Linked DNA regions of Homo sapiens: region 2 is linked to region 1. The links come from fine-mapping of genetic effects on gene expression. Tissue or cell type: whole blood. Region 1 holds a variant in brackets; the other region holds the start of a gene. All regions are shown on one strand. Distances are from middle to middle.

The links. PIP is the estimated chance that this variant, and not a neighbour inherited with it, causes the effect.
Region 2: CLEC16A starts here. The variant in region 1 is fine-mapped to the expression of CLEC16A in whole blood (INTERVAL, PIP 0.94).

What each region holds. Positions count from the first base shown.
Region 1 is chr16:11,185,408-11,188,167 of GRCh38, reverse strand. No RefSeq gene overlaps it. Among named protein-coding and RNA genes, the nearest start is that of SOCS1, 69 kb to the left of the region's middle. The variant A/T (reference allele first, on the strand shown) is at 1,618.
Region 2 is chr16:10,943,424-10,945,923 of GRCh38, reverse strand. It overlaps CLEC16A (C-type lectin domain containing 16A), which reads right to left and starts at 1,360. Exons shown (of 24, transcript NM_015226.3): 1 at 1,127-1,360. The coding sequence starts at 1,206. RefSeq lists enhancers at 1,288-1,347, 1,568-1,747.

The sequences.
Region 1 (2,760 bases):
GAGCCATCTCGGCTCCAGGCGAGGCAGCTGGGAGGAAGCAGGACCTTCATGGCATGGGACAGTCCTCAGCCAACAGGGCATGAGAGTTGGGGGATAAATGCCTGACCTCCTGCCCCTCCCAGGACCAGTCCCAAGGCTCATCTATGCAGCTCTGCAGAGGGGCTCCAGAGAGGCTGAGTATCAAGTGCCCCCAGCAGTGTCTGGCGGTGACCAGGCCAGCTGTGCCCTGTCTACTGGCCTCCTGCCCTTCTCTCCCAGCTCCCACTCCAGCTTCCTGGGGCCACTACCCAAATAAACCAGCAGCACTGTGTCCTCCTTTCAGGCCTCTGATGTCAGGGGTTCCCCAAACGAAAGCCATGAGATTTTGCTCATGGCAAAGAAACAAAAATCCTTTGAGGTGTGACAAACGCCAGGAAAGAAATGGGTGGCAGCTGCTGATGGAGGAAAGCAGGGGTCTGACGTCAGAATAGTCCCTGGAAGTAACACTGATTCTGTGGACGGAGGATAACGACAGAGGATGGGTGCAGGTGCAGAGGTTGGGGAGGGGGCTGGAGGGAGGAAAGGCAGGTGCCAAGGTCCTGGGAGGGGAATCAGTTGAGGGGTCTTCCAGGACAGGGCAGAGGGCTTGTGTGCTCCAAGTGGTGGGGTGTAGCCAGGGTGGGCTGCAGAGGTGGGCCAGGCTGGCTTCTTATTTTGGGTGCTGTATCAGTCAGGATTCTTCAGAGAAACAGAACCAACAGGAGATACAGATAGGTAGGTAGATAGGTAGGCAGGTATAGATATATAGATTTATAGGCTGGGCACTGCGGTTCATGCCTGTAATCCCAGCACTTTGGGAGCCTGAGGCAGGATAATCACTTTAGGCCAGGAGTTCAAGATCAGCCTGGGCAACATAGTGAGACAAAAAAAACTAAATTACCAAGTGTGCTGGCGCACGCCCGTAGTCCCAGATGCTCCGGAGGCTGAGGCGGCAGGATCGCTTGAGCCTGGGAGTTCGAGGCTGCAGTGAGCTTTGATGGCAACACTGCACTCCAGCCTCGGTGACAGAGTGAGACCCTGTTTCTAAAATAAAATTAAATTAAAAATGAGATTTACAGATGCCCCTCAATTTACAATGAGGCTACATCCCAATAAACACATCCTAAGTTGAAAACAACTTTAGTACCTCGATAAACCTGTCATAAGGTTGAAAAATTGTCAGTTGAACCCTTATAAGTTGGGGGCCGTCTGTATTATGGGAATTGGCTCATGCAATTCTGGAGGCCAAGGGGTCCTAGAATCTGCCGTCTGCAAGCTGGGAGGCCCAGGAAAGCCAGTGTCGTTCCAGTCCAAGCTGGAAGGCCCGAGAGCCAGGGCCTCTGATGTCCAAGGGCAGGCGAAGATGGACATACGGGATCAAGCAGAAAGCAAATTTTACCTTTTTCCTCCTTGTTTTATTTGGGCCCTCAATGGATTGAATGGTGGCCGCCCACAGTGGTGAGGGTGATCTTCTTCACTCAGTCTACTCTTTCAAATGCTACTCTCTCCCCCAGCCCCCACTTTTTTTTTTGAGATAGGGTCTCACTCTGTCACCCAGGCTGGAGTGCAGTGGCCAATCTCGGCTCACTGCAGTGGCCA[A/T]TCTCGGCTCACTGCAGACCTCTGCCTCCTGGGTTCAAGCGATTCTCATGTCTCAGCCTCCTGAGTAGCTGGGACTACAGGTGCCCACCACCACGCCCAGCTAATTTTTGTATTTTCGGTAGAGACAGGATTTCACCGTGTTGGTCAGGTTGGTCTCGAACTCCCGACCTCAAGTGATCCACCCACCACAGCCTCCCAAAGTGCTGGGATTACAGGCATGAGCCACCTCACCCTACTGCAAATTCTACTTTCTTGCAGAAACACCCTCCCAGTCACACTTGGAAATCATGTCATGCCGCTATCTGGGCACCCCTTAGCCCAGTCAGGCTGACACATAAACTGAATCATCACAGCTGCCTCTGAGGATCAGCTGGGGACCTTAAAAAATTCCAGGGCTCAGCTGTACCCCACAGGTGCTGGCTTTGTACCTCAGGGGGTACATGTAACTGAGGGGGCCTGGGCCTGGGCTGAAGCCTGTTTTTCTGGCTGGGCCGCTGGTGAGACCCCCTGGCTGAAATTGCATGTGCCAGGCTGGGTACAGGTGCTTGATTTACCTGCCCCCACTTCATCTACACAAGCAAGGACACTGCCAGAAAGGTTCCCATTTTACAGATGAGGAAATTGAGCCTCATGCGGTTTCACCATGTACTCAAGGCCACAGGGATGGGGAGCATTGGTGCAGGGACTTGAACCTCGTCAGCAACTCCAAAGCCTGCACTGCCACCTACTCCACCCTGCTTGAGGTCTCGCTCATCACTGAGATACCAGCAGCAGCTCGGTCTCAGCTCAGATACCTGTGGAGGGTTGGGGGACACAGAATTTCTGATGGTGGCAGAGGAAAGCCCTCAAACACTCCTACCCTTGGCAACCTGGCCCGGGCAAATTCTCCTGAAGATCTTTGGCTGGCCCTGGTAAGGCCTGGAAGACACCAGAGTGAGCACACATAGGGAGAGGCTGAAAGTTAGGGCCATGGGCATGGAGAACTGAATGGAATTCAGGCTTTAAGAATCTGGAACTGTATCCAAGAATGACTCCATCCATCAGTCCATCCATCCATCCAACATACATGCACAGAGAGCTCATGGGCCAGAGCCTGCACCCAGCTCCCACAGAACAGGTGAAAATAAAACACAGTCGTTGCCT
Region 2 (2,500 bases), 240 kb after region 1:
AAACCAAGCAGTCTGTGCCCTCGTGAAGTGCCAGTTTAACAGAAGACAGAAAATAAGTATAAATAAAAAATAAAGAATAATCGCAGAGAGTGGAGAAGCACTCAATGAAAGCAAGAGAAAGATGTGATGGATAGGAACTGGGATGGGGGGAGCACGTTAGGTAGGGTGGTCTGGGAAGGCCTCGCTGAGCTGATAATAAACACAGCTACCACTACTGGCCACCTACTATGTACCTACTGGGTCAGTCACCTTCCATTTCCATTACAATGTTCACGATCCCCATTTGCAAATGGGAATCTGGAGGCTCAGAGAGGTGAAGTAATTTGCCCAAGGTCACACAGCCAGTAAATGGTGGTTTCAGGATTTGAACGCAGGTGTGGCTGCAAAGCCAGCCTCTTAATTTCTGCACTCCTGGTCCCAAGACCCTATCTGCCACCTGTCCTCCCCCAGAGCTGTAGAGTCATTCCCTCCTCAGAGGTCTCTATTTTTCATCATCCTCCCCAATCGCCCCAAAATCCTGGGTCTCAGCGTGCATGCCCCCAGCTTAGACTCCCCTCGGAAAATAATCTGTTCTTTTATAATAATTAATGCCGTTTAATGAGCAATTGTACGTGTTCTGAGCTTAACGTTCATTCTCTTATCCAACCAACTCTCAACACAATAGCAGGAAGCAGGTGCTGTCACTCTACTCTTTTTACAAGTGGGGAACCTGAGGCCTACATTCACACAGATAGATTCGGACCCAGATCTGCCCGACTCCAGGACCCAGGCCTTTGACCCTCTAAGCTGTTCAGTTTAAGAAGTACCCCGCCAGGAAACTTGGTGGACACCGTCAAGAACAAAGTCTGTGTCCATAAACTGAAATCGCATCCTCTCGCTTTACAGGTGGGGATACGGAGACTCTGAGAAATTAAGCGACTTGTCCAAGGTCACACAGCCAAGAGCGACGGGGTCAGGGTTCGAACCCAGGCGCCCTGACTCCCGAGCCCTCGCTCTTAACCACCACACGGGCTTCCCCGGGCGCCCTTCGCCGCCGCTCTCACGCCTCCTAGAGCCCCGACCCGGAGCTCGGCGCCCCGTCCCCCTGTCCAGCCCCGAGGCCTCCCGCTACGCCCCCCACACTCACTTGAGGTGGTCCAAGGAGTGGATGTTGCGGGAAGTCTTGCCATGGCCCCCGCCCACCCAGCTCCGCGAGCGGCCAAACATGTCGGCGGCCCCGACCCGTCTCTCGTCTCACGGTCTCATGCCGGACCAGCAGAGCGGCCCAGCGCCCGCGGCGGTAGCACAAGCGGAGGATGCGGCGGCGGAGGCGGTGGAGGAACCGCGAGCCGCCTTCCTCCCCGGCCCACAGCCCAGCACTGACATTCAGCCGGAACCGGCCGTTCGACCGCCGCGCTTTACGGCCGCCGCCGCGTGGGGCGCTGGGAAATGCAGTTCACCCGCGTGGCCTTCGGCGGCAGGACTCCGCGAACGGACTACAAGGCCCGGCATGCATCGTGCAACCGCGGGCCTACGGCCATCCACAAAAGGCGGGGCGAGAGGAGGAGCGACCGCAGAATCCTCCGGGTGGGCGGGAATTGGAAGCTTTGGGCGCAGTCCCGGAGAGGGAATCGGCGTAGATGGGTCAAGGAAAGTCACCACTGTAGTAACAATTACTAGATTTATAATAAGAATAAGAATAGTATTGGATGGTGTATACTATGCAAAGCCACTATCCTAAGGGCTTTACATATTAAGGTATTTAATTTTCACAACCATCCTATGAATTGGGTACTATTATCGAACCTATTTTATCATCAGGGAAACGGAGTCACTGAGAGGTTGACTTACCCAAGATCATGCAGTTAACAAGTGGCAAAACCAGGGTTCATAACCACGCACGCACCCTTATTTTTCATTCCCTTTATAAACCAAAACGGCACTAGATAACAACCTTATTTGTCCTGACAGCCTTTTTCTTTTTCCACTTCAATTAAGTGTGTGTGTGTGTGTGTGTGTGTGTGTGTGTGTGTGTGTGTGTGTGTGTGTGTGTTGGAAAAGGCTGGATGCAACAATGCACCAAACTGAACATTTTGTACTTCCAGAGGATTCCTCTGGTCTTCAGCCAGAATCCATGCTATTTCCCAAAGTACCACGTTAAAATGAAAAAGGAAACACCCAACTTTCTGCATGAGCCAGAATATATCTAACTTCTACCCTGGATTAGAAGTGGTAAGTTCAGTGTGGGCAAGACTTCTCAAGTTTACCATCCATTCATTCATTCAGTCACTTCTACATATCAACCTTATTAAAGGTCCACTGTGTCCCATTAACTCTGCTCAAGAAAGAACTGGGCCAGAGGCCAATGTTCTCCCCAGTGCCTAGCACAAGGTTTGGCACATAGCAGGTGTTTAACAAATATTGGTAGAGTGCATGAATGAGTAAAGGTTTGTTTCACCTTCAGCAGTTGGAGAAATGGATAAGAGTGGAGAGTTAATGGTTTGTCCTGTAATTCATATAG